4 linked regions of the Homo sapiens genome follow. The protein of the gene in region 1 purifies or fractionates together with the protein of each later gene. This does not show direct contact. Each region holds a gene or a part of one and is shown in the gene's direction. Other genes may lie near its edges. The genes, in order: ECH1, MCCC1, EIF2B3 and MCCC2.

Evidence for each region.
Region 2: the proteins of ECH1 (region 1) and MCCC1 purify together in Homo sapiens (affinity purification with mass spectrometry; 3 studies listed by BioGRID and IntAct, with this or other methods). This does not show direct contact.
Region 3: the proteins of ECH1 (region 1) and EIF2B3 purify together in Homo sapiens (affinity purification with mass spectrometry; 3 studies listed by BioGRID and IntAct, with this or other methods). This does not show direct contact.
Region 4: the proteins of ECH1 (region 1) and MCCC2 purify together in Homo sapiens (affinity purification with mass spectrometry; 4 studies listed by BioGRID and IntAct, with this or other methods). This does not show direct contact.

What each region holds. Positions count from the first base shown.
Region 1 is NC_000019.10:38,828,795-38,836,384, reverse strand, and holds the start of ECH1 (delta(3,5)-Delta(2,4)-dienoyl-CoA isomerase, mitochondrial precursor), read left to right. Parts: upstream 1-4,590; 5' UTR 4,591-4,612; coding exon 4,613-4,664; exon of another isoform or gene 4,665-4,689; intron 4,690-4,868; coding exon 4,869-5,076; intron 5,077-5,218; coding exon 5,219-5,307; intron 5,308-7,590. UniProt on the Homo sapiens protein: Isomerization of 3-trans,5-cis-dienoyl-CoA to 2-trans,4-trans-dienoyl-CoA.
Region 2 is NC_000003.12:183,033,490-183,040,511, reverse strand, and holds part of MCCC1 (methylcrotonoyl-CoA carboxylase subunit alpha, mitochondrial isoform 1 precursor), read left to right. Parts: intron 1-1,376; coding exon 1,377-1,486; intron 1,487-3,077; coding exon 3,078-3,294; intron 3,295-6,434; coding exon 6,435-6,521; intron 6,522-6,527; exon of another isoform or gene 6,528-7,022.
Region 3 is NC_000001.11:44,983,577-44,991,111, reverse strand, and holds the start of EIF2B3 (translation initiation factor eIF2B subunit gamma), read left to right. Parts: upstream 1-4,516; 5' UTR 4,517-4,619; intron 4,620-7,535. UniProt on the Homo sapiens protein: Acts as a component of the translation initiation factor 2B (eIF2B) complex, which catalyzes the exchange of GDP for GTP on the eukaryotic initiation factor 2 (eIF2) complex gamma subunit.
Region 4 is NC_000005.10:71,646,329-71,653,350, forward strand, and holds part of MCCC2 (methylcrotonoyl-CoA carboxylase beta chain, mitochondrial isoform 1 precursor), read left to right. Parts: intron 1-2,768; coding exon 2,769-2,925; intron 2,926-3,740; coding exon 3,741-3,855; intron 3,856-6,340; coding exon 6,341-6,426; intron 6,427-7,022. UniProt on the Homo sapiens protein: Carboxyltransferase subunit of the 3-methylcrotonyl-CoA carboxylase, an enzyme that catalyzes the conversion of 3-methylcrotonyl-CoA to 3-methylglutaconyl-CoA, a critical step for leucine and isovaleric acid catabolism.

The sequences.
Region 1 (7,590 bases):
GCTGGGATTCCAGGATGTCTGCTTTTCTCCCTCTCTGTCCTGAAGACACAGGCAGGCCTGAGCACAGTCACAGGCCCTCTGGAGGCATACAGAGACCCAAGAGGAGCAGGGTGGGCTGCAGACTGAGAATGGTGCTAGCAATTGAGTCTTTGAGGAAAATCCATCAGGCTTAGTGGCATTCTTACTGGGCCCTGCCCGAGCAAGCTCTATCAGGCCCAGTGGGTCATCACACCTATAATTCCAGCAATCTGGGGAGGCCAAGGTGGGGCACATACTTTGAGCTCAGGAGTTGAAGACCAGCCTGGGCAGCATGGTGAAACGTCACTACAAAAAGGTGGGTTTGGTGGAACACCTGTAGTCCCAGCTACTCGGGAGGCTGAGGCAGGTGGGTCAGTTGAGCCTAGGAGGTTAACAGTGCAGTGATCACATCACTGCACTCCAACCTGGGTGACAATGAGACCCTATCTCAAAAAAAAAAAGGTTTCCAGCCTTGCCATCATGGTGAAACCCTGTCTCTACTAAAAATACAAAAATCAGCCGGGCATAGTGGCGCATGCCAGTAGTCCCAGCTACCTAGCAGGCTGAGGTGGATCACCCCAACCCTGGAGGGTGATGCTGCAGTGAACTGTGATGGGGTCATTGCACCCCAGCCTGGGCAACAGGGTGTCAAAAAAACCCAAAACCTTTGTGTTCTGTATCATTTCAGAGTGACTTGTCTTTACCCTTGCAGTATCATTGTGTGGATGTGTCATGATTTAACCTGGTCCCAAAGGGTAGTTTCCAGGTCTATTTTTGCTATTGCAAACAGCGCTGTAACACGTATCTACACAAGTATCTTGGCCAGCTTCCCTGATACTGATCAGGAGATAAATTCCTGCCAGTGGAATTGCTGGGTTAAAGGATATATATAGCTGGATGTAGTGGCCCATGCCTGTAATCCCAGCACTTTGGGAAGCCAAGGCAGGCAGATCACTTAAGGCCGGGAGTTTTGAGACCTGGGCAACATGGCAAAACCCTGTCTACAAAAAATAAGAAAGTGGGCCGGGCATGGTGGCTCACGCCTGTAATCCCAGCACTTTGGGAGGCCGAGGTGAGCGGAACACTTACGGTCAGGAGTTCGAGACCAGCCTGGCCAACATGGTGAAACCCTGTCTCTACTAAAAAAATAAAAATTAGCCGGGCATGGTGGCACGTTCCTGTAGTCACAGCTACTCAGGAGGCTGAGGCAGGAGAATCGCTGGAACCCAGGAGGCAGAGGTTGCAGTGAGCCGAGATTGTGCCATTGCACTCCAGCCTGAGTGACGAGAGTGAAACTCCGTCTCGAGAAAAAAATATATAGAAAAATGATGTGGGCATGGTGGCACACACTGTGCCTATAGTCCCAGCTACTCATGGGGGCTGAAGCAGGAGGATCACTTGAGCTGTGAGCTGTGATGGCACCACTATACTCCATCCTGGGCGAAAGGGCGAGACCATGTCTCAAAACTTAAAGGATCTATATAATTGCATCATACGGTAGATAGCTTCCCACTTGCAGATGCAAATCTGTGAAGATGCCTTGCGGTGGCGGGTACCACCCGGAAGGATCCTGGTTTAAGGATTTTGACTCCTACTGGAGGGAAGAGGTGACCTGCAGAGGAGCAGGTCACAAACCTTGAAGTTTATGCATGTGTGCTTGAGAATAGCCCACTCTGGGGAATTTACTGTGAATAAAATTTTCTTTTTTGAGATGGAGTCTTGCTCTGTCACCCAGGCTGGAGTGCAATGGCATAATCTTGGCTCACTGCAACCTCTGCCTCCTGGTTCAAGCAATTCTCCTGCCTCAGCCTCCCAAGTAGCTGGGATTACAGGCATGTGCCACCATGCCTGGCTGATTTTTGTATTTTTAGTAGAGATGGGGTTTCACCATATTGGCTAGGCTGGTCTCGAACTCCTGAGATCCACTGGCCTCGGCCTCCCAAAGTAGCTATGATACAGGCATGAGCCACTGCGCCCGGCCTTACATTTTTAACATTTAATGACATCACAAAAGCATCATTTGGCAGATGAACAAGTTTTGCTTCACTATGGGAAGTTTCAAACAATCTTTAGACAAGGAAAAACTACAGTCATCTTGCAGCCATAAATAAAATCAACTAGGGTTTATTGTTTTTAAGCCAGTCAAGGTGATAAAAAGTGAATTTTACCAGTTTGTCTCCTAGCATCCAATTTCATTTCCTGTTACCAGTTTGAGTCTCCTTCCAGAGATATTACATACATACACCATATTCTGTGCAGGTCCAGCTACACTCTTTTTTTTGAGACATTGTCTCACTCTGTCACCCAGGCTGAAGTGCTGGAGTGCAGTGGCATGAGGTCAGCTCACTGCAAACTCTGCCTCCTGGGTTGAAGCAATTCTCCTGCCTCAGCCTCCCAAGTAGCTGGGATTACAGGCACCTGCCACCACGCCCCGCTAATTTTTTTTTTTTTTTAGACAGAGTCTTGCTCTGTGGCCCAGGCTGGAGTGCAGTGGCGTGATCTCACATCAGTGCAAGCTCCGCCTCCTGGGTTCACGCCATTCTCCTGCCTCAGCCTCCCGAATAGCTGGGACTACAGGCGCCCGCCACCACGCCCGGCTAATTTTTGGTATTTTTAGTAGAGATGGGGTTTCACCGTGTTAGCCAGGATGGTCTCGATCTTCTCACCTTGTGATCCACCCGCCTTGGCCTCCCAAAGTGCTGGGATTAGAGGCATGAGCCAACACGCCTGGCTAATTTTTATATTTTTAATAGAGATTGGGTTTCACCATGTTGGCCATGCTGGTCTCAAACTCCTGACCTGAGGTGATCTGCCTGCCTGGGCCTCCTAAAGTGCTGGGATTACAGACCTGAGCCACCGCACCCAGCCCAGCTATACTTTCTTACACCAAAGGAACAAAGGATCATACTAAATGTTCTATTACATCTTCACATTTTTTTCTCACACATTTTTATTTTTGCATAGAGGTTTCAGAGTTTTCTATGGTATAAACAGTCTACTGTTGATGGGTAGTTAATGGTTCTGTCTTTCAAAAGAGCCTGCTTTTCTAGTCTGTGAAAACACACAGGAGACAGGTTCATTAAGGAAAGATACTTCCTTCAATCTCACTGGCCCAGAGACATCTGTTCACCGCCTTGCTCAATGTCTCCCCAAAAAGCATACTTAAGCAGTTTTACAGTACTTTTTTTTTTTATTTTTTTGAGATGGAGTTTCGCTCTGTCCCCAGGCTGGAGTGCAGTGGCGCCATCTCGGCTCCCTGCGAGCTCCGCCTCCGGGGTTCACGCCATTCTCCAGCCTCAGCCTCCCCAGTAGCTGGGGCTACAGACGCCCGCCACCATGCCCGCTAAGTTTTTGTATTTTTTTAGTAGGGACGGGGTTTCACTGTGTTAGCTAGGTCAGGAGGTCGATCTCCTGACCTCGTGATCTGCCCGCCACGGCCTCCCAAAGTGCTGGGATTACAGGCGTGAGCCACCGCGCCCGGCCAGCAGTTTTACAGTACTTTTTATGCCTTTTGGTAGCTGGCTTTTCCCAAGGGAATTTCGGTTTTTTTGTTTTGTTTGTTTTTTTTAAGAACATGAACTTTTTTTTCTTCTTTTTTTTTTTTTTGAGATCTTGCTCTGTCGCCCAGGCTGGGGTACAGTGGTGCCATCTCTGCTCATTGCAACCTCCGCCTCCTGGGCTCAAGCCATTCTCTTCCCGCTAGGATTACAGGTGCCGGACACCGCACCCGGCTAATTTTTGTATTTTTAGTAGAGACGGGGTTTCGCCATGTTGACCAGGCTGCTGTTGAACTCCTGACCTCAGGTGATCCGCCTGCCTCGGCCTCCCAAAGTGCTTGTATTACAGGCGTGAGCCACTGCGCCAGGCTAAGAACATGAACTCTGGTGCCAGGTAATCCTGCTTTAGCCCTTCTGAAGCCCACCGACCTTGAACCTAGTGTCTTCCCGTGCCTGGGCCAGTTTCCTCTGCATATAGTAGGAAATAGTACGACCTCCTGGTGGGAGTTCATATTATACAGTCAGCGCTTAATGTTGGCCCGTCTGTACTCATTCCTTTACCTGAGTAAACTCACAGTACTGCAAGTTTTCTTTTATTTTTAGTTAACATGATATATACATGCATGATTACAAGCTCTGCTGCAATTATGTCCTTGGACATTTCAGCTGTCGCCTATTATTCCACCATTATGAAACAGCTGTGTGATGAACTTTAGCGGGAGCTGTTTGCTTTTCTGTTTTTTTTTTTGTTTGTTTGTTTTGTTTTTTTTAAGACGGAGTGTCGCTCGGTCGCCAGGCTGGAGAGCAATGGCGCGATCTCGGCTCACTGCAAACTCCGCCTCCCAGGTTCACGCCATTGCAGGAGCTATTTTCTTTGGCCAGGTTCCCACTGGGGCAAAGGGTCCATTTCTGAGCCTGGCTCTATGTAAGGCAACCGGAAATCGACTGCCCTTAGTAAAGATGGCGGAAAGAACGGCGTCATTGCCTGTCAGGTTGCGGCATCGGTGCCCTCGCTCAACATGGCGGCCTTCTGTGCCCGCCCCCTCCGCTAACGGGCACGTTACTCCGTCCGAACGCAGTAGACGAAGGCGGCGGCGATGGCGGCGGGGATAGTGGCTTCTCGCAGACTCCGCGACCTACTGACCCGGCGTGAGTCACCTCTTGCCTTATGGGGGTGCGTCGCGCTGTCGTGCTGTTATAGCAGATGTAGGACGGGGAGGGCTATCCGGGGTCACGAAGGGCCCGAGTCCCCTAAATTCAGGGGTGCGTGTGCTCCCTTTTGAAGGACTCCCTAATTCGATAGGCCTGTGTCTTGCAGTCTGGGGTCATCAAAGGCTGTTCCTTTCTCCCCAGGACTGACAGGCTCCAACTACCCGGGACTCAGTATTAGCCTTCGCCTCACTGGCTCCTCTGCACAAGAGGAGGCTTCCGGAGTAGCCCTCGGTGAAGCCCCAGACCACAGCTATGAGTCCCTTCGTGTGACGTCTGCGCAGAAACATGTTCTGCATGTCCAGCTCAACCGGCCCAACAAGAGGAATGCCATGAACAAGGTCTTCTGGAGGTCTGACCTGCAGATCCTGGAGGCCTGCCTGCGGGGGGAGGCGGGGCTGCGGGACTGGGTGAAAGTGGAACGTTGTGGGAAGATGGACATGAGGGCAGGGTATTCCCGCCCCATTTGTAACCCTTCACTCGTTGCTTCACAGAGAGATGGTAGAGTGCTTCAACAAGATTTCGAGAGACGCTGACTGTCGGGCGGTGGTGATCTCTGGTGCAGGAAAAATGTTCACTGCAGGTACCAGACGCTCTTCACACACCCTGCCAGCCTTCCTAGCTCCTGGCAATAGACAGTGGAGCAGTGCTTCTGAATTAGGGTTTTAAGCAGCTTCTGACTTACACACTTTTTTTTTTTTTTTTTGAGACGGGGTCTTGCTCTGTTGCCACGCTGGAGTGCAGTAGCGCAATCTCAGCTCACTGCAACCTCCACCTCCCGGGTTCAAGCAATTCTTCTGTCTGGGACTACAGGCGTGGGCCACCACACCCAGCTAATTTTTGTATTTTTAGTAGAGACGGGGTTTCACCATATTGGCCAGGATGGTCTCCATCTCCTGACGTTATGATCTGCCTGCCTCAGCCTCCCAAAGTGCTGGGATTATAGGCCTGAACCATTGCTCCTGGCCCCTAACTCACACTTTTATCTGTGTGTTTTTTTTTTTTTTTTTGGAGACAATATCTTTCTCTGTCACCCAGGCTGGAGTACAGTTGCCTAATCATAAATCACTGTAACCTCAAATACCTGAGGTCAAGCGATTCTCCCACCTCAGCCTGCCAAAATGCTGGGATTACAGGCAGGTGCCACCATGGCCAGCCCTATCATTTTTTTAAAAAAAGGCCTACTTTAAAACATTCAAATATAAGTATTAGTCTGACAGAACACGATGGGATCATAGGCTCTGAAGTCTAGGTTTCCATCCTGGATCTGTGGCCATGAACAACATGCTTAACCTCTCAGCCTATAGCTGTGTCAGCATATAATATAATAACATGCTTTCGTGCAACTATTCAACTCACTAATTGATTTCCAGTTACAGGTCAGTTGGATCTTTGGATTGACCCACTGACCTTTTCTTCAGATTGGAGAATTTCCACTGGTCACAGTTACTAACTGTTTAGTCATCTCTATCCTTCTGTAAAGCCCATCCAGTGATTTATTTTGTTTTATTTTGTTTCAGACGGAGTTTTGCTTTTGTTGCAATGGTGCAATCTCAACTCACTGCAACCTCTGCTTCCTGGGTTCAAGTGATTCTCCTGCCACAGCCACCCAAGTAGCTGGGGTTACAAGTGCCCGCCACCACGCCCGGCTAATTTTTTGTGTTTCTAGTAGAGACGGAGTTTTACCATGTTGGCCAGGCTGGTCTTAAACTCCTGACCTCAGGTCATCCACCCACCTAGGGCCTCCCAAAGTGCTAGGATGATAGGCGTGAGCCACCGTGCCCAGCTACTACCCACTGATTTTAAATTTCAGATATTGTAGTTTTCTTTCTTTTTTTTTTTTTTCTGAGACAGAGTCGCTCTGTCACCCAGGCTGGAGTGCAGTGGTGCGATCTCGGCTCGCTGCAAGCTCTGCCTCCCGGGTTCAGGCCATTCTTCTGCCTCAGCCTCCCGAGTACTGGGACCACCAGTGCCTGCCACCACACCCAGCTAAGTTTTTGTGTTTTTAGTAGAAACGGGGTTTCACCGTGTTAGCCAGGATGGTCTCGATCTCCTGACCTCGTGATCTGCCCGCCTCGGCCTCCAAAAGTGCTGAGATTACAGGCGTGAGCTACCACGCCCAGCCCAGATATTGTAGTTTTCAATTCTCCAATTTCCATTTGGTTCATATTTTATTTTATTTTATTTATTCATTTATTTTGAGACAGAGTCTCGCTTTGTCACCCAGGCTGGAGTATAGTGATGCAATTTTGGCTCATTGCAACATCTGCCTCCTGGGTTGAAGCAATTCTCCTGCCTCAGCCTCCTGCATAGCTGGGATTACAGATGCCCGCCACCAGGCCTAGCTAATTTTTTTTTTTTTTTTTTTTTTTTTTGGAGAAGGAGTCTCACTCTGTTGACCAGGCTGGAGTACAGTGGTGCAGTCTGGGCTCACTGCAACCTCCACCTCCCAGATTCAAGCCATTCTCCTGCCTGAGCCTCCTGAGTACTTGTGATTACAGGCACCCGGCACCACGCCTGGCTAATTTTTATATTTTTAGTAGAGACGGGGTCTCACCATTTTGGCCAGGCGGGTCTTGAACTCCTGGCCTCCAGTGATCGGCCCCCCTCGGCCTCCCAAAGTGCTGGGATTACAGGCGTGAGCCACTGTGCCTGGTCAGTTGTATATTTTTTGTCATGCATGTTTTTCTTCCTGCCATTGAGCATAGTTATAATGACTGATTTAAAATCCTTGTCTTCTGGCCAGGTGTGGTGGCTCACGCCTGTAATCCCAGCACTTTGGGAGGTCGAGGCAGGCGGATCACGAGGTCAGGAGATCGAGACCATCCTGGCTAACATGGTGAAACCCCATCTCTACTAAAAATAA
Region 2 (7,022 bases), on another chromosome or scaffold:
CTCAAACTCCTGGCCTCAAGTGATCTGCCCACCTTGGCCTTTCAAGGTGCTGGGATTACAGGGGTGAGCCACCGTGCCTGGCCAGGACAAGTTTTTAAGAGGATGTCTGGAATGGATTTAGATAGGTAGATTTAAACAGCATAATGAAGAGTGAAGAAAAGAGAAAAAGGTATGTTTGAAGAATAGTAAGAAAATATATGACTGGAGACATGGGTTGAAGGCAAATCCTAGTGTCCTAAAAGCCAAAATGAGGATTTAGATCTTCTTAAAAATAAATTGGCAGCATTTTGAGAGCTCTGGATAAGCCACAGCAAGATTTGGTAGTTAGTAGACTTTTTAACTTAGCAAAGCATCTTAACTCTGCTTGCCCCACCGGTTCCTTCCTTTTTTTTTTTTTTTTTTTTTTTTTTTTTCTGAGATGGAGTTTCACTCTTGTTGCCCAGGCTGGAGTGCAATGGCACGATTTTGGCTCACTGCAACCTCCACTTCCCAGGTTCAAATGATTCTCCTTCCTCAGCCTCCTGAGTAGCTGGAATTACAGGCACCCGCCACCACGCCCGGCTAATTTTTTGTATTTTTAGTAGAGACAGGGTTTCACTATGTTGGCCAGGCTGGTCTTGAACTCCTGACTTTGTGATCTGCCCACCTCGGCCTCCCAAAGTCTTGGGAGTACAGGCGTGAGCCACCTGTAGGCACCTCTAATCTTATCAACGAGGACTCTGGGGTTCAAAGAGGTCAAGTGACCTGCCAAAATCCTGGAAAGACCCTGCAACAACGTTCTTTTCAACACACCACATCCTTTCTACTTGAACCATTTCTAACCAGTGGAATGTGCCCTGGTTCAGATTCTTGTTCTCTAGGACTGTAACCATCCCAGTGATGATAGCTGCCATTGGTTTATCAGTTTTGCCAGGTATGGCACTTGTCACTTTATTGTCACTCCTCCCAGCAACCCTGCAGGACAGAGGAATTATTAAACTTGCTTGACTAGTACGGAAACTGAAAGAGTGGAGGGGAGGGGAATGCTAAGGGCAGAAATGAGGGGAATGTGAGAGGGTGGAGGGAGATTGTGTTGACTTTGAAAATGAGAAGGGAAAAGAAGATTCAGAAGAAGATAGGACAGGGAAAGCCAGCTTGTGTGCCATTGAATCACCACGTTAGGGCCTGGTGCTGTTGGGTGGCCCACCTCGTTACACCTGGTGAGTTTTCAAAGCCCTCTGAACCTCAGGGTCCTCATGAATAAATTTGTGTTGTTATTTATCATGCAGGGGTTTATGAGGATTAAGCGTGAAATGTACATAACAAAATGTCTTGCTCGTTGTATTTTATTCCTTCGTGTTTTGACTTGAAGAGGTTACCGTGGTTTTCAATTTCAGGAGACGAAGTTTCCGTGCATTATGACCCCATGATTGCGAAGCTGGTCGTGTGGGCAGCAGATCGCCAGGCGGCATTGACAAAACTGAGGTACAGCCTTCGTCAGTACAATGTGAGTGATCTGAGACCGTGCCAGTGACCTTGATGTGTTTGGTCAGCACCAGAGGTCAGCCTTTGTCTTTGGCAGGGCCTTGGTCTCGTCAGCATATTTTCTATTTCCATCAATTGCCCAAACAAAATAGTTTCACATGGGAGAATTTTGCGTGGGCCAGAACAGGGTTTGAGGACTTCTTCATTTCAGTTACAAAAGAAAGATTGCAGAAGTAAAATTGTTAGTGTCAGTGCTATGCTTCGGTGAAATCCTATTCACTCTGTAGATAAGGCCAGCTATACATGGTACCTTCGTAGGTTTTTTATTTTTCCTAAGAGCTGTCCACAGTAGAAAATACTTAGGAAATAAAAGCAGATGTTTTCCTGAATGTTGTTTTCGCTACCCAGTATGCCTGCAGTCCAGTAGTTTTTCTCTAAAGTAAAATAATTATGTTCAGTTTCATCCCTTTAATAGAGTTTGTTATTTTTCTGTAGAACATTAATTTCCTTGGTGCAGAAAGTCCCATACCACATTGATTTGGCTCATAGAAGGATTTATTAACCCAGTTATTCAACTTGTTATTGTTAATAATTGATCAAAGCTCTGGTCTCTGTGGCTCCAACCACACTGGCCGCCTCACCGCTTCTGAGACTCACTCAGCATGGAGCCATGCATTCCTGTCCAATCTTCCAGAATGTTCTTCCCCCACATGATTGCAGGGCTCCCTCCTGACTACCCTGCTCTCCTGCTCTGAGCCCTTTCCCAGGCTGCCCCATTTAAAGTATGACCTTTTGTTATTCTTTATCCTCTTAGCCAGCCTTCATTTTCTTCATAGCATGTAACATTATATTCAATACCTGTTTACAGATATTGTTACTTGTTGCCCTAGAATGTAAGCAGAGACTGTGAAGGCAGGGACATCATATGTTTTGTTCCTCACTATGTCCCCAGTGCCTGGATCAGAGCCTGGCACTTAAGAGATGCTCAGGAAATGGCTGTTAAATGAATGAAGGAATGGATGAGTGAATGAATGAACCCAAAGCTCAGATAGCTGGTTTTACTTTTGATCCCATTTATTGGTGTATTTGGGTTAATTTTATACCTTTTAAAATTTTTGTATCGGTATATAAAATTTGGATTTTATTGTTGGAAAGAAGCTCTTTTGAGGGCATTTAATCCTATCCTCTCCCCAGTATAGCAATCCAGCTTGCTGTTTGCAGTCTTCCTATTCTGTGGAAGTGTTCTGAGCAGCAAGTCTTCGATACCTTGCAAATGAATTTCATTTATGTTTCTTAACATTTATTATGTTCCTAACCTGAGTCAAGTAAGTGCCTCGGTATTTCCAGCATCCTCTTTGTCATATTAAAATGTAATTTTTAGTGTCAAGTCCAGATGGATATAGTAATAGCGGATGGACATAGTGATAGTGAGATGGTTTTTTTGTGTTTTTTTTCCTGAGAATTGTCCTGTTGCCACATGGTACCTTAGTAGGTTTTTTATTTTTCCTAAGAGTTGTTCACAGTAGAAAATACTTAGATAAAAAGAGCAGATGGTTTTCTGAACATATTGTTTTCCCCACTCAGCAGGAACTGGGGGTTTATTCTCTTCCTAGATTGTTGGACTGCACACCAACATTGACTTCTTACTCAACCTGTCTGGCCACCCAGAGTTTGAAGCTGGGAACGTGCACACTGATTTCATCCCTCAACACCACAAACAGTTGTTGCTCAGTCGGAAGGCTGCAGCCAAAGAGTCTTTATGCCAGGCAGCCCTGGGTCTCATCCTCAAGGAGAAAGCCATGACCGACACTTTCACTCTTCAGGCACATGGTATGGAAGGCTTTTCTCTTTCCTCTGCTTGTCAAGTTTTGCAAATCATCATTGAACATGCTTTTCTTTCTGTATGGCACACTGACCTCTCTTTTCTCCTCTCAGTGACTGACACCATTCTTTTCAGATGTGTTTTTTAGTATGAAGGAAAGCTCTTCACTTACCATGGATGCACCCATAAACACTATTTAACCCATTAACTGGAGTGTAACTAATCACCTAACATTGTAGAAATGGATCTCTTTGGCCAGGCGCGGTGGCTCACGTCTGTAATCCCAGCACTTTGGGAGGCCAGGGCGGCTGGATCATGAGGTCAGGAGATCAAGACCATCCTGGCTAACACGGTGAAACCCCATCTCTACTAAAAATACAAAAAATTAGCTGGGCGTGGTGGCACGTGCCTGTGATCCCAGCACTTTAGAAGGCCAGGGTGGGCGGATCATGATGTCAGGAGATCAAGACCATCCTGGCTAACATGGTGAAACCCTGTCTCTACTAAAAATACAAAAAATAAGCTGGGTGTGGTGGCACGCACCTGTAGTCCCAGCTACTCGGGAGGCTGAGACAAGAGAATCGCTTGAACCCGGGAGGCGGAGGTTGCAGTGAACCGAGATCGCGCCACTGCACTCCAGCCTGGACAACAGGGCGAGAGTTCATCTAAAAAAAAAAAAAAAAAAAAAGGAAATGGATCTCTTTTCAGTCAAACACTTGTTCTCCCCACATCCTACACTAATTTCTTATCACTTCTTTTGTTCGCCACTCCTCATAGCCCTACTTTGTTTTGTCCTCTGTACCTGCAGCAACTCCCTTTGTCCCAGAGTCTCAAGACAATCTAAGACTGGAGACTTAGATTCCCCAGGGTTACCCATGACTTATTGTCGAATTACTTCCGCTTTTTCCATCCTGTGATTGAATGTCTACCTAGAGACTTCATAGTGTCATAGAATCCAAGCATAGGAAGGGCCATAGTGGGGTTCATCCTGGCTACCACACATATGCATTGCATCCCTACCCCAGCACACCCACTAAGCTGTTGCCCAACTTCTTCCTAACACCTTGGGAAACTGGAAGTTCATTACCTCATCAGGTAGCTTACAGTTTCAGTCAGTTCTCCATTAGAAAGTTCTGCCTTTAAACCAAACACCGCATGTTCTCACTCATAGGTGGGAATTGAACAATGAGATCACTTGGACACAGGGTGGGGAACATCACACACCGGGGCCTGTCGTGGGGTGGGGGGAGGGGGGAGGGATAGCATTAGGAGATATACCTAATGTAAATGACGAGTTAATAGGTGCAGCACACCAACATGACACATGTATACATATGTAACAAACCTGCACCTTGTGCACATGTACCCTAGAACTTAAAGTATTAAAAAAAAAAAGTTCTGCCCTTTAAATTGATACAAAATCTCAGCTCTCACATACTTTTTGCATTTCAGGCTAGCTCTGACTTTCGGAGCAAACAGAATTTTTAAAAATCTGATCTATTTTTCTCTTTTATTGGTAATTATTATATTACCCTATACAGTTTGAGCATCCCAAATCCCCAAATCCAAAATGCTCCAGAATCGGAAGCTTTTTCAGCACTAACATGATGCTCAAAGGAAATGCTCATTGGAACAGTTCAGATTCCAGATACTTGGATCAGGGATGCTAAGCCAGTTAAATATAATGCAAATAATCCAAAATCCAAAAAAAAAAAAAAAAATCTGAAATTCAAAACACTTCTGGTCCCAAGCATTTTGGGTAAGTGATACTGAACCCGTATTATTATAGGATCCTATCATTAGAATCTTTAATTTCTGAATTCATTTAGATTCATTCAAGATAGCTGTATGGAAAGCTTAAAATGTAAAATGTTTTAAGTCCCGAAAACTGCATCTTTAGAAGATTTGTGCTCTATCCTCATTTTATCCTTTTACATTGAATGAAAATGCATCTAAATACGTCCCATGTGGTATTCCTGAGCCTGACCTTAACGTTTTTAGAATGGAACGTTGTCTTACTGTGACCTTCCTTTTGAAAGTTTATAATTGGTACAGATATGAGGTTCAGAATAAATTGCATCAGCTTAGCTATGCTGAAGCTCCTGGATATTGTCCAATAGAGGATATACACCCAAATGCCTATAAGGGGCCAGGCGCGGTGGCTCATGCCTGTAATCCCAACACTTTGAGAGGCCCAGGGCGGGTGGATCACTTAAGGTCAGGAGTTTGAGACCAGCCTGGCCAACATGGTGAAACCCCATCTCCACTAAAAATAGAAAAGTTAGCCAGCTGTGGTGGCACCCACCTGTAATCCCAGCTACTCTGGAGGCTGAGGCAGGAGAATCACTTGAACCCAGGAGGTGGAGGTTGCAGTGAGCCAAGATCATGCCACTGCACTCCATCCTGGGCGACAGAACGAGACTCGTCTCAAAAAAGAAAAAAAAAAAAGGCCTATAAGGGCTGGGCCAACAACATAAAAACATAAAAGAGTAAAAGAGGCCAGGTGAAAGAAAAATAGTGAATAGTAGAGACTGGTGACCTGGAATGAATTTGCCCCATCAAAAGGTGGTGACTGTGGTACAGTTTATGCCACTATGGGATTAGAGTTTAGATTGCAAATATTCAGATTCTTCAATAGAAGCTAGAATTTTTCACATGAAATTTCATAAGATGTAAACAAAACCAGCCCTTTAAACTTAACAAGAAGAACAAAAAAAGCACATCTGAGCTGCCAGTTTAGGACGTGTGTTTTTTTGTTTTTTTTTTTTTTTGAGACGGAGTCTTGCTCTGTCGCCCAGGCTGGATCCGGTGCAGTGGCGCAATCTTGGCTCACTGCAAGCTCCACCTCCCGGATTCACGCCATTCTCCTGCCTCAGCCTCCAGAGTAGCTGGGACTAGAGGCGCCCGTCACCATGCCCAGCTAATTTTTTTGTATTTTTAGTAGAGACGGGGTTTCACCGTGTTAGCTAGGATGGTCTCGATCTCCTGACCTCATGATCCGCCCGCCTTGGCCTCCCAAAGTGCTGGGATTACAGGCATGAGCCACTGTGCCCGGCCAGCACTTGCATTTTATGTTTTCTTTTGTAAGGTGTAAATTTCATAGGCTTGATACTCATAAGTTTGTTACTGAATTTTAAATTTTTTCTAGATCAATTCTCTCCATTTTCGTCTAGCAGTGGAAGAAGACTGAATATCTCGTATACCAGAAACATGACTCTTAAAGATGGTAAAAACAGTAAGTAATGTTTCATTAAAAGAGAAATGTGAGTCATAGAAATGTATCACATTAATCTGAAAAAGAGGATTCCAGCCTGGCCATGATCAGTCAGTTACATTTTTTAAATGCCTAGGCTAAACATTGGAGGGAAATATGCCAATATAATAGAATTGATTGGCTCTGGGTAGTAGAGTTGATGGTATTTGCTTTTCTTCTTTACACTTTTTAAAAATTTTGTAAATATTCTAAAAATATGTCATAAAATAAACATAGCAAAACAGCTGAAATGAAATATGCCAGAATGTTAGAAATATGCCCAAAAAAACCTCTTTTTCCCCAATTCTTTGTACTTTTTTTTTTGCTTTGCAATTTTTCTGCAGCGAGAATGTATTACTTTTAAATAAGAAAAACAGTTTTCAAAACTATGTCAGAGAGGGACGATTACCCACTGCCCATGCAGTGTTTCAGGGGTTTCAGGTGGAAGTGGGTCACTGCAGAGCTGTAATTTATTAAGTGCCT
Region 3 (7,535 bases), on another chromosome or scaffold:
AGTCAATGTTAGGAAGATCTGCATAACTCTGTGAACGAATATTTTACATATTATTTGTATACCAAGTTGCAAGGTCATGCATGGGTAAAATGTCCATTCAAAGTGCAAGTACTGTAACAAGGTACAAAATGTTCATTGATATAATTTCCGATTCTACATTGCAACAAACCTTTAACAAACTACCACTTATTGAATTTTGGTATAGTGTCAAAGAATACCTATAATTATCTGAAAAGGCTATTAAAAGCTCTATCTCTTACCAACTATGTATCTATGTGAAGTCACATTTTTATGATATAATTAAACCAAAATAATATATTACAATAATGGAAAAATCAAGCTGTTTTCTATTAAGCCAGACCCTAAAGAGACTATTCAAAAAGGTGAAACAATGGCATTCATCTCACTAAACTTTTTGTTTTGAAAATGTAGTTGGCCAGGCACAATGGCTCATGCCTGTAATCCCAGCACTTTGGGAGGTCAAGGCGGGCGGATCACCTGAGGTCAGGAGTTTGAGACTAGCCTGACCAACATGGAGAAACCCCGTCTCTACTATAAATACAAAATCAGCTGGGTGTGGTGGCGCATGCCTGTAAATTCCAGCTACTTGGGAGGCTGAGGCAGGAGAATCGCTTGAACCCGGGAGGCAGAGGTTGCAGTGAGCTGAGATCGTGCCATTGCACTCCAGCCTGGGCAACAAGAGCAAAACTCCGTGTCAAAAAAATAATTTTTTTTCGATATGGTAAATATTGATAAATATAATCCATATAAACAAAAGCTTTCTGGGGTCCTCAGTAATTTTTAAGTATGAAGAGTCTAGAGATGAAAAAGTTTGAGAATTGTTGCCCTCAGGGAATAATTTAAAGTGAGTTTAAACTGAAGCAATCTCTCAACTACTTTCCACAATAGAAGAGAAAACCCTCTAGTTCGTTGAAAAACATTTGCTAGTTTAAACATAAGGATTTGAAATGGATGGCAGATATGGGGCTGACTGCTCTTCTTACTTATAATTAGTTCTTACCTCAAACCCATGCTGTAATTTCCAAGTCTTGGTTGAGGTAATACCAAAGAGAGAATATCTCTGTGTTTCTATAGAGGGGTAGTCAGACTTCAGGCCTCCTGTGGCCAGATCAGTCAGTTCATGGCAAGGCAAAGATAGGCTGGTTTTAGGATATGAGTCCCCCCCTTTTTTTTTCAGGGTCTAAGCAGACCTCCTTCTGGAAAAAATGACAAGTCCTAATCATTAACTGCTGTATCTGCAACACCAAGCATCTAAGACACTGCTTGGCACATATTAGGCACTCAAGATATTGTTGAAGCCAGTCCTCCATGGCACATACCTGTAGTCCTAGCTACTTGGGAAGCTGAGGCAAGACGATCGTTGAGCCCAGGAGTTTGAGTCCAGCCTGGGCAGCATAAGCTGACCTCATTTCTAAAAATAAATGAATAAATATTGTTGAATGAAGTCAAGCTCCTTTATTTTTATTACAGAAATCATGCTCTACCTTTTAACTGGCAGGAAGCTAAAGCAACTCAAGATTTAAGAGATGAATCAGGCTGGGCACGGTGGCTCACGGCTGTGTCCCAGCACTTTGGGAGGTCGAGGCGAACAGATCACGAGGTCAGGAGTTCAAGACCATCCTGGCCTATCTGATGAAACCCCTTGTCTACTAAAAATACAAAAATTAGCCAGGCGTGGTGGCGCATGCCTGTAGTCCCAGCTACTCGGGAGGCTGACGCAGGAATCACTTGAACCCAGGAGGCAGAGGTTGCAGTGAGCCAAGATTGTGCCACTGAACTCCAGCCTGGTGACAGAGTGAGACTGTCTCAAAAAAAAAAAAAAATTAATTAATCGAAAAAAAAGGAAGCTTTCAAAAGATTAGGAAATTGCAGGAATGCATGGGAAAAAGAGAATGGCCATTGGTCCTGTTATCTAGTGCAACTTGATAAACCACTCCAAACCGTAGAGCTTAGAACAACAATTATTTTATTATCTATTCGTCATTTTTTAATATTTATTTTATTTACTTAGAGATCCTGTCTCTTTGTTACCCAGGCTGAAGTGCAGTGATACCATATTGGCTCACTGCCACCTCTGCCTCTTGGGCTCCAGCGATCCTCCTGCCTCAGCCTTCCAAGTAGCTGGAACCCCACAGCGCGGCACCACACCTGACTAATTTTTGTATTTTTAGTAGAGAGGGTGTTTCACTACGTTGCCCAGGCTAGTCTCGAACTCCTGGGCCCAAGGGATCCATCCGCCTCACTTCCTAAACTTCTGGGATTACAAGCGTGAGCCACCGCACCTGGCCTATTATTGTTTTGTTAAAAGCAGGGTCTCGGCTTTGCAAATGCAGCCACCGACGCCAGGAGCTCTGTACGATCAGCCATGGTTAACCCCACCGTGTTCGACATCGCTGTCGACGGCAAGCCCTTGGGCCGCGTGTCCTTCGAGCCGTTTGCAGACAAGGTTCCAAAGGCAGCAGAAAACTTTCGTGCTCTGAGCAATGTAGAGAAAGGATTTGGTTATAAAGGTTCCTGCTTTCACAGAATTATTCCAGGGTTTATGTGTCAGGGTGGTGACTTCACATGCCATAATGGCACTGGTGGCAAGTACACCTGCGGGGAGAAATTTGATGACGAGAGCTTCGTCCTAAAGCATACACATCCTGGCATCTTGTCCATGGCAAATGCTGGACCCAACACAAATGGTTCCCAGTGTTTCATCTGCACTGCCAAGACTGAGTGGCTGGATGGCAATCCTGTGGTCTTTGGCAAGGTGAAAGAAGGCATGAATATTGTGGAGGCCATGGGGCACTTTGGGTCCGAGAATGGCAAGACCAGCAAGAAGATCACCATTGCTGACTGTGGACAACTCTAACAAGTTTGGCTTTTGTTTTATCTTAACCACCAGACCATTCCTTTTGTAGCTCAGAAGAGCACCCCTTCACCCCATTTGCTTGCAGTATTTTTTTTTTTTTTTTTTTTTGAGACGCTGTCTCACCCTGTCGCCCTCTCCCAGGCTGAAGTGCAGTGGCACGATCTCGGCTCACTGCAACCTCCACTTCCCGGGTTCAAGCAATTCTCTTTCCTCAGCCTCCCGAGTAGCTGGGACTACAGGCGCACGCCGCCATGCCTGGCTAATTTTTTCTTTCTTTCTTTCTTTCTTTTTTTTTTTTTTTTTGTATTTTAGTAGAGACGGGGTTTCACCATGTTGCCCAGGCTGATCTTGAACTCCTGAGCTCAGGCAATCTGCCTGCCTCGGCCTCCCAAAGTGCTAGGATTACAGACGTGAGCCACCACGCCCGGCCTGCTCGCAGTATCTTATCTTTGTGCTCTTGCTGCAGTTCCCTTTGGGTTCCATGTTTTCCTTGTTCCTTTCCATGCCTAACTGGATTGCTGAGTTAAGTTTATGATTATGAAATAAAAACTAAATTAAAAAAAAAAAACAGGGTCTCACTCTGTCGTCTAGGCAGGAGGAGTGCAGTGGCCCGATCATAGCTCACTGCAGCCTCGAACTCCTGGGCTCAAGCGATCCTCCCGTTTCAGCCTCCTGAGCAGCTGGGACTACAGGCACACACTACCATGCCCAGCTAATTTTTACTTTTGTAGAGACTGGAGGCTCTCTCGCACAGGCTGGTCTTGAACGCCCGGTTTCAAGCAATCCTCCCACCTCGGCTTCCCAAATTGCGGAGATTACAGGCATGAGCCACCATGCCCAGCCGCCCCCAGTTTTGATGGCTAAAGTTAACGTGAGTGGCCCTGTTACAAATAGGAAGTCCCGGGCCGGGCGCGGTGGCTCACGCCTGTAATCCCAGCACTTTGGGAGGCCGAGGCGGGCGGATCACGAGGTCAGGAGATCGAGACCATCCTGGCTAACACAGTGAAACCCCCGTCTCTACTAAAAATACAAAAAAATTAGCCGGGCATGGTGGCAGGCGCCTGTAGTCCCAGCTCCTCGGGAGGCTGAGGGAGGAAAATGGCGTGAACCCGGGAGGCCGAGCTTGCAGTGAGCCGAGATCGCGCCACTGCACTCCAGCCTGGGCGACGCAGAGCGAGACTCCGTCTCAAAAAAAACAAAAAACAAACAACAACAACAACAACAACAAAAACAAATAGGAAGTCCTGGCAACCCCTGCAGGGGCATTCGGTGATTTTTTTCACTAGCTAGCCAAAATTGCGGCTCCCAATGAGCTTTCTTTCACCGAATGTACTCGAAGCCAGGTCTTAGACTTACTCCCTGAGGAAAGAGGCTGAGTTGTTCCGTCTGGGTTCCCGGCACCCTGCACTGGGAGGAATACTCAAAAGGCGTTGGTAATGTGTTAATGGACAGAGGGACACACGTGTCGAATGCTCCTCGGTGGCCCCGCCCCCTCCGGCCCGCCTTCCCTCCTCTCCGCTGAGTGTGCTTCCCCTCCGTCATCCATCGCTCGGCGGTCTTCTCTTCTCCATGGGTCTGCTCTGCGCGTTCCATCGAGTTTCTCGGCCATCGCGCGCCTGCGCCATTGGGCTGTCAGTCAGAGGCGGCGTGGAGATCGCTGGGAGCGGTTGCGGCGTGCCGGGAGCTGAGTTATAGCTGTGACTTCTGCCCTGCCAGGCCGCACACAAGCTGGCTGACCCGGGTGAGCAGTGCGGTGGGGCCACTCATCTGAGGGAGGCGGGCATGTCGAACTGGGCCGAGGTGGACCCGAAGGGGTAGGAGAGGGTGCTGAGCCCCGAAGTTGTCAGCTCGACTCCCTGCTCGACCCGGTGTAGCTGTGTCCGAAGTAGAAGGGAGGTTGGGGATGAGAATCCGAGCCAACCACCTTATGCAACAGATGGAGGAACTAAGTTTCTAATCTCAGCTACTCGAGAGTCTGAGGCAGGAGAATCGTTTGAACCCAGGAGGTGGAGGTTGCAGTGAGCCTAATTCGCGCCACTGCACTCCAGCCTGGGCAACATAGTGAGACTCTCCGTTTCAAAAAAAAAAAAAAAAAGAAAAGAAAAGAAAGAAACGAAGTTTCGGGGAGGGTTCTGCTTAAAGTCACAGCGAGTGAGCGAGCACCAGACCGGTACCAGACGCCTTTAGCACTGTGCCTGCACTCTTTCAGCCTCAGCCCTTCATTCATTTGTTCAGCCTGCCTTTAGTTGTTTGGATGCAGGGCAGTGAAATATAGGGAGGAGCAGTGAGGTCTCTGCCTTCAGGCAGCACACGTGGAATGACAGACCAATTCTGATACAGTTTTCTTATCTATTTACAACTGGAAAAGGCATGAGTGCTATGATGCAGGCAAGTCTGAGATGCGGTGAACACCCTCTCCAAAGCTTGGGAGGCAGCGAGACTCGTTGCCATGATTCCCGTCAGCCATAGTCGTGGCAGTGACATGAGCATTTGACAGTCTGCCTGGTAGCATGATTAGTTATGTTCATGATTACTATTCATGCTTCCTAGGTTGCCTTTCTTCACCCAGGGCCTCCTTGAGAGCTGGAACCTCAGTTCCTAGTGACCTGGGTTCTAATGCCCTTATGCACATGTTTGAGTTTGACTCTTATACAGTTGTGAAGTTCACAGGTCCTCATTCCACTTTGATTTCTGGCATCTGACTGGGAATACAGTGATGATGCACACACAGTCCAAGAAAGTCACTCTTACACTCTTATGTAGACATTTAAGAGACATTAATGTTACACTTAAGTAGACATTTAAACACATACGTGCAATGAAACCCGTAAAGGCTAAGAGAATCTGCACATGGCAGAATGGAAGCACTTCGGGAAAAGGAGTCACTTCTGGAGGGGTGGGAACGGTTAGGAATGGCTTTGTAGGCAAGAGGATTCTTGAGCTGTCTTCAAAGTTTAATAGGTGATTACTAGACACAAGAGAAAGGCAGACTAGGAAGCAACAGTAGCAGTGCAGAGACCAGAATTATGAAGCAGCATGGCTCAATTAGTACGAAGGTTTTCCATAATCTAGTCTCTGTCTAGTAAAGCAAATACAAATATAGTGCTTCTCATAAGATGGACATTATTGGCCGGGCGCGGTGGCTCACGCCTGTAATCCCAGCACTTTGGGAGGCCGAGGCGGGTGGATCATGAGGTCAGGAGATCGAGACCATCCTGGCTAACAAGGTGAAACCCCGTCTCTACTAAAAATACAAAAAATTAGCCGGGCGCGGTGGCGGGTGCCTGTAGTCCCAGCTACTCGGGAGGCTGAGGCAGGAGAATGGCGTGAACCCGGGAAGCGGAGCTTGCAGTGAGCCGAGATTGCGCCACTGCAGTCCGCAGTCCGGCCTGGGCGACAGAGCGAGACTCCGTCTCAAAAAAAAAAAAAAAAAAAAGATGGACATTATTTTGTCTGCTTTACGTAGAATAACAAATTTAATCTTAACAACAACTCTGTGAAGTGAAACTATAATTATCCCCATCATAAAATGCAAAAATTGAGGCATAGAAAATTTACGTAGTTTGCCCTAGTTCACACAGCTAATAATAAATAGTAGAGCTAGAATTCAAACCTAGGCATTCTAGCTCTATGGTCTGTGAACCTAACCACCAGGCTTCCTTCTAGAAGCTGAGGACACTGAGAGTTTTAAATGTCAGGCCCCTGATCACACCTATGAGTGTCAGAATCATGACTCAAACTCATCTTTTGACTTTTTTTTTTTGGGACAGGGTCTCACTCTGTTGCCCAGGCTGGAGTGCAGTGGTGTGCAGCCTTAACCTCCCAGGCTCAGGTGATTCTCCCACCTCAGCCTCCCGAGTATCTGGGACTACAGGCATGCGCCACCATACCTGGCTAATTTTTTATAGAGATGGGGTCTCACCATGTTGCCCAGGCTGTTCTAGAATTCCTAGGCTCAAGTGATCCTCTCATCTTGGCCTCCCAAAGTGCTGGGAGCATGAGCCACTGTGCCTGGCGCTCTTTTGGCTCTTTTTTATTTTATTTTATTTTTTTTGAGACGGAGTCTCACTCTGTCGCCCAGGCTGAAGTGCGAGTGGTGTGCTCTCAGCTCACTGCAGCTGCTGCCTCCCGGGTTCCTGTGATTCTCCTGCCTCAGCCACCTGAGTAGCTGGGATTACGGGTGCCTGACACCATGCCTGGCTACTTTTAAAAATGTTTTTGGTAGAGGCCGGGCGCAGTGGCTCATGCCTGAAATCCCAGCACTTTAGGAGGCCAAGGCAGGTGGATCACCTAAGGTTAGGAGTTCAAGACCAGCCTGGCCAACATGGTGAAACCCTGTCTCTACTAAAAATCCAAAGAATTAGCCAAGTATGGTGGCGGATGCCTGTAATCCCAGCAACTTGGGAGGCTGAGGCAGGAGAATCGCTTGAACCTGGGAGGCAGAGGTTGCAGTGAGCCAAGATCATGCCATTGCACTCAACCTGGGGAACAAGAACTCTGTTTCAAAAAAAAAAATTTTTTTTTAGTAGAGACAGAGTTTCACCAAGTTGGCCAGGCTGCTCTTGAACTCCTGACCTCAGGTGATCCGCCCGCCTGGGCCTCCCAAAGTGCTGGGATTACAGGCGTGAGCCACCACGTCCAGCTCATCTTTTGACTC
Region 4 (7,022 bases), on another chromosome or scaffold:
TCAGTGTGGCTCATGTATTGGACAGCACACATGTAGACCACTTCATCAGAGCAGGAAGTTCTACTGGACATGCTCTTTCTGGAGGCCCTTTAAGAGTTAGCACTTTTCTTCATGCATGTTAAATATTCTGAGGAGATTATCCATATTTTCTTTCCCCCAAGTAGCTGGGCCTACAGGCATGTGCCACCATGCCTGGTTAATTTTTGTATTTTTGTAAGACGTAGTTTCACCCAGACCATGTTGCCCAGACTGGCCTCAAACTCCTGAGCTCAAGCAATCTGCCCGCCTTGTTCTCCCAAAGTGCTGATACTACAGACATGAGCCACGAGCCACCACACCTTGCTGATTATCCATATTTTCTAAGTGAAGCTATTTCTGAGTTATGTACCTGATCAGCATTCACATGGCCACCCTTTACTCCTGTGTGTGCACAGCCACACACCCAGAAAGCAGCAGGAGCATGATCTGATCACTGCAGAGAGCATCATGCTTTTCCTAGGACCCTTTTCCTCCTCAAGATTTCAGGCACGTGCTACGGTCTTCCCTTTTATTGTACAGTTAATTCAACTTAAGTAACATCATTTTAAAATGTATGTGTATACCCTGAACCAAAGTCTGGGGATTTGAGTTTTGGCCCCAAAGAATGGTATGACCAAAGTGAGATATGTCACCTCTCTGGACTTTACTCCAGAGATGACCTTAACATGGTGGATAAATTGATTTTTAAGGTCTGTTACGGTTGAAGAGTGAATTCTCTGATTCTCTGGTATCCTTCATTATATGTTGCAGAGTGTCTGAGATATACAGGGCACTCAGATATGTTGGTTAGCAGAAAACAGCCTCCCCCATCCCAGGCTACCTCAGCTTCAAAGGAAGGAGAGGCTCTTAGTACTTGTTGGGATCATGCAAGCCTCTTTGAGAAGGAAGAGTCAGGCTCTTGGCAGTCAACAGGGCTTGAAATAGTACTGGTGCTAAAGCATCTTCATCCTGTGAGCTACTTAGGTTCATGATATTTGGTTAGATGAATGTTGAGAGAAGTTATATCCAAATGGCAGCCTAAGAGGGTCCTGCATGGTAACTTATGTAAAAGGGCAGATAGAAAGGATTCTGAAGCCTAACTATACCAGAGTTCTTGTTTTTAATAATGATTCCTGGATTGTTAACCACCAGGCAGTTAAAACTCTGTGGTTTGAAGATATCTACATTTTTGTTTTGTTTTGTTTTGGCCCTGTTGGGTTGAGTTTAGTTTTTCAGCATTGCATTTGAGGTTCCTGTGGGATATTCACCTGGAGGCATATAGTGGGCAGGTGAATAAGTCTCAGCACAGGAGAGGTGTTTTAGGTAGAGATGCAAATGTAGACATCATCAGAATATGGAGGTAATTTTAAAGCTGTGGGAATAGATAAGAACCCCCCTGAGAGAAGAGAAGAAGGTTCAGTGACAGTCTTCGAGTACCTCTGATTTTTTCCTTTTTCTTCAAGAGTAAAGGAAGATGGGGAGCATGATTATGCAGTTTTCTTAAGATTGGAAGAAGAAGGATTTGAGAAAGCGAAGTGAGATGCCTCACTCTTCTTTTTGAAGGCAGGATCCCCTCCAGAGAATAGAGGGATGGTGGGTCGGGTTGGGTGGGGTGAGAACTTGAAGACAGCTGATATTTGAAGTAGGTATGGTGGGAATGTTACAATGGAGTCAAGGCTGGGGAGATTGAGGAGTTTCTGAGCTTTTCTGAGGGTCCAGCTGAGTAGGATAGCTGCAGGAAGCAGATGGTGCCAAGTAAAGGGCTGTGCTGCCATTCCTGTGGTGACTGCAGAAGGCACACGTGCTCTGGAGGAACTGGTTGGGTTGAATTGGATGACCAGATACTGGAGTTTGGCAAACCAGGGATAGTGGCAGTCAATGAGGCAGGTGAGTCTGCAGGCCCACAGATGGAAGAAATGCCTTTGCTGGAGACTTGCGGGGTAAGGAGACAAGCGAAGCCCAACTCAGTGTTATAAGGCAGAGAAAGAGGAACCCAAGTTCTGGAAGGCAGTGAAGTTGCAGAGCAGCCTCCACAGAGCTAGGGGCTTGAAGAAATAGAAGGATCCTCTATTGAAATGGAAAAATAGTTTTTTTTTAACCTTGCTATTGAGTCACTGGCAGGGACTGTTAGCATCTCTATGAAACATTCATCTTTATGTCTTCAAAGTTTCAAAGCATCACTTTAGAAAGAACAGTCTGTTTTAAAACCAGGTCAGTGAAAGCTAAAGCCCTCATAGTTAGGCTCATCACAGCACTTTGTCCTTAACTAGCCATGTCACATTCTTTTCAGCATCAAGCTGCTTCTTTGACATCATCTCCTTTTTAAAATTTTTATTTATTTATTTTTAAATAGAGGTAGGGTCTCGCTTTGTTGCCCAGGCTGGTCTCAAACACCTGGCCTCAACTGATCCTCCCGCTTAGGCTTCCCAAATTGTTGGTATTATGGGGGTGAGTCACTGCACCCAGCCAAGATCATCTCTTGAAGATAGATTGCATCCTCATATTGTTTGAAGGTTTCTGTGTGCATCCAGATGAACTGCTTTAAGAAAATTTAGAAAGTGATTAGAGAAAATTTTATTTTATCCTTTTAAAGCAAACTTTTTAACGGTATGTTTCACATATAAACATTTTCTTAAGGCGAGAGGCATTTAGTAAGATGAGTTTAGTAAAACAAGATGTCCTTTTGGTGGAATTGCGTTCCGCATATTAATCCCATCACCCAGAGGCTCTCTTTCTGATCTTTCTCTCAGGATTTATGGTTGGTAGAGAGTATGAAGCTGAAGGAATTGCCAAGGATGGTGCCAAGATGGTGGCCGCTGTGGCCTGTGCCCAAGTGCCTAAGATAACCCTCATCATTGGGGGCTCCTATGGAGCCGGAAACTATGGGATGTGTGGCAGAGCATATAGGTAGGTGTCATGATTTTCTCTGAAACAAAGAAACATGCTTCAAGTATAAAATACATGGTCAGTTTATTTCAGGTGTATTTGAAATATAGAATGCCATTCCCAGATCTCAATCAATTATACCGTAATTTGTATCATTTGGAGGGGTGAAATGAAATTTAATGCCAAAGGTGTTATTTGGAAGAAATCTACAATGGGAGTCAAGAAATACTTGAAATGGCTGATAATGAAAATGCCACACATTAAGATTTGTGCAGTGCAGCTAAAGTCTGGCTCTGAGAAAGGTATGTAGCCTTAAAGGCATATACGGGAAAAGAAGCAAGACTGCAAGTCAGTGAGCTAAGCCTTCATCTGTGGGAAGTTCAAAGAACAGCACGTTAAACCCGTGACAAATAGAAAGGACATAATGAAGAGCAGACATCAGATAGAAGAATCAGTATAGCCCAAAGTTGTTTGGTTTGAAAGTTCAACAAACTTGATAATCTTATGCTTAAACTAAAAAATAAAGAGAGACAGCACATATAACCACTATCAGGAATGGAAAAAAGGACATGACTGTAGATCATGAGAGGATATTATGAACGCTTTTATACCCAGAATTACATGGAGAACTTAGAAGTCCCATCTGTGCTCAGGACCCTCCTCTGGAGTCTAGTCTGGGGTGTGTTCCAGGCATTTGTATATTTGTGAAAGCTCTACAGATGATTGTAATGTGCAGCCAGAATCAGGAACCACTAATTTAAAAGGCAAACATGGGCCTCTGAAAATCTATGTTGTATATTGACTTAATTTGTTTATTCTTCCTTTTCTTCCCCCAGCCCAAGATTTCTCTACATTTGGCCAAATGCTCGTATCTCAGTGATGGGAGGAGAGCAGGCAGCCAATGTGTTGGCCACGATAACAAAGGACCAAAGAGCCCGGGAAGGAAAGCAGGTCGGTGTCGTTTTCTCTTGTTTCTCTCTGGTTTTGCCTCTCACCATAAACACCCTGGAGCCAAGGAGCAGCGTGCCTGGAAGCCCTTGGTGTTCATGGCTGGGGACCTGGCGCACACTGCCTGGCCATATTTAGACTGTGCTGCCCTGGAAGTTGTTCCAGCAAATCACATGATTTCTGTCCTTTATCTTTTTAAAGCCATTTCATTTGGGGTACTTTCTTTGTGGCCATTTAAAATTGTTTCAGAATTTCCAAGAAAACACTTTTTTATTTTATTTTTATTTATTTTTAAAATTTTTGAGACAGAGTCTCGCTCTGTCACCCAGGCTGGAGTGGAGTGCCGCAATCTCGGTTCACTGCAGCCTCCACCTCCTGGGTTCAAGCAATTCTCATGCCTCAGCTTCCTGAGAAGCTGGGATTACAGGTGTGTGCCACCACGCCAGGCTAATTTTTGTATTTTTATTTATTTATTTATTTATTTTTGAGACAGAGTCTCGCTTTGTCGCCCAGGCTGGTGTGCAGTGGCACGATCTCGGCTCACTGCAAGCTCCGCCTCCCAGGTTCACGCCATTCTTCTGCCTCAGCCTCCCGAGTAGCTGGGACTACAGGTGCCCATTACCATGCCTGGCTAATTTTTTTGTATTTTTAGTAGAGATGGGGTTTCACTGTGTTAGCCAGGATGGTCTCGATCTCCTGCCCTTGTGATCCACTCGCCTTGGCCTCCCAAAGTGCTGGGATTATAGGCTTGAGCCACCGCGCCCGGCCTAATTTTTGTATTTTTAGTAGAGACAGGGTTTCACTATGTTGGCCAGGCTGCTCTCAAACTCCTGACCTCAAGTGATCTGCCCACCTCCCAAAGTGCTGGGATTACAGGTGTGTGCCACCATGCCCAGCCAAGAAAACACTTTAGAAACTGACAGTAAGTATCTGAGGCATAAAGATGTTTGATTCTTAGTCATTTGTACTTAGTGAGATTTAAATAAGTCTGATGTACTACTTTGATTTTATGACCAAAAGCAGCAGAATTTTGTTCTTTCTATTTTACTTTTAGATTGTTGTTAAGGATACCCTGAGTGGGAGGGCTCCGTCATCTATTGAGAATTGAATAACATTATCCTGTGTATAAATGAAGAAAAATGGAAAGGGCAGTGGAAACTTGATGAAAGGCAGATCAGCAAGCGGCTGCTTTTAAAATGAATTCTTTTGTTTGTGTCTCTGTTGGAGATTGTTTGAAATTTTGCATTAATTTTTATTAGTTACAACTTTTAACTCCTGTGTAAGCACCAAGTATGAAGATGATGGTTGTGTGTTCCTGAAGTTGCTTAGGTACACTGTTGTCTCATTATGGGAAGGGATGGAATGGAGGGAGCCCTGTCTGCTCTGTGCAGGAATCATCAGGTCTTCCACCTAGATTGTGGAGTGAGGTACTGCCTCCCTGAATGCATCCATCCATGCCTCACATCCCTAGTTGTCTTTTCCAAGCACTCGGAACTCTGGAGACTTACATTGAGGTTTCAGATTCACTTTAGTACCTACTAGTATCAAAGGAAACAGATAGCTTTGCTTTTGTGCGAGTGGTTGGGGTGTGGGTGTGTGGGTGGGGGAGGTGAGATATGAAATTCTACCTGATACTTCAAAGACATGTCTGAAACTCTATGAAGCCTAGCATGGTGATCTCTTATTAAGTAGTTGTTCTTTGATTACTTCAATATACAGATACTTGAATTCATTCATTTTTATACAGGAAAGGAAAGCACAGTGTGTTAATGGTTCTCCCTCAGAATTCGTGACCTAGAAAATGATATTAAGGTATTAGCATATTTACGTAAAAGAAGGTAGAGTTTATTTGAAATAAGTCTTTGTTTCTGCTGTCGAGTTGCTTTTTGAGTTGAAAGTATTTTTCAGGGTTTCAAATTAAGTTCTGAAGATTTTTACATCTGAATTAATTATCACTTGATCCTTGTAATACTGATGGGAAGGCTGTGAAATTCTTAATTAGGGGAAAATATCTCTCAGTTCTCTGGGAACTTGACTGAAAAGGTTATTCAAGATTTGGTTGGTATTTTACCCCTTTAAGCTTAAACATTTAAGCTTAAGTTTTAAATTTTGGCTATTTTAAATGAGAATCTCATACTTTTCCACATTCTTAACTGGAGGTTGCTAAGTGTAATGCAGCCCTTTTGTTGGGTTGTATAATTCACATCTATTATTGTACCTTGCTGTGATACACAGTACCCTGGGCTTTCACCTTACGTGAAATAGCCTCAGGATATTGTCTCTGTTAGGAGAGATGGGATGGGGCACTAACTTGATACTCATGTCTTAGCGTGTATGTTAATGATCACTTGTAATTTATACATCACTATGCACATGTTAGATGTAACATTATTATTCATGACATCTGTTGTTTCTTTTGAATTGAGATGATCTAAACAGGGCCAGTTGTTCACTGAAGCTGACTTACTCATGGCCTCTTTTCCTTTAGTTCTCCAGTGCTGATGAAGCGGCTTTAAAAGAGCCCATCATTAAGAAGTTTGAAGAGGAAGGAAACCCTTACTATTCCAGCGCAAGGTGGGGGCCAGAACATCACTAACTCTCTGATGGGTGCAGATGGCAGTCAGAGGAACAGCTTTACAGAGCTCTGTGTAGTTGAGATGGTCCAGCATTCATAGGAACTGGAAAATAACATTTGGACACACTTAATTTTGTACTGTTGTTTCTTTACAATCTGAATGGCTACTGCTGAAATGCCACCCCTCCTCCCAGCATCCCTGCACTGTGGACTCACCACCAGTGGTCTGATTCTCGCTTCCCTTGTCTTCCCCCTAGTTGAGGTGTCTGGGGCCTGGAGGGGTCCTGCAGCCCAAGGTGGGCCATGTTAGGAGCCGAGAATAAGTTATAAGCTTGGCTGTGTTACTTCAGAAGTTCTAATTTTTGCTTAAAAACCCCTCTCCTTGATCATTTTGTTTTTACCCCATTTTAAACATGAGATTGGTTGAACACTTACTGGCATTTGTTGACAAGTATGCTTGTACGTTTGAAAGGTGATTAGTCACTGCCAGGGTCTGTGTGTCGGCGCCAAATAATTACCTCACAGACCATTGCCGCTGTTGGCTCGGTTTTTTTCTTACACCACTTAATGAGGTAATAAATTATCATGCCTGTCC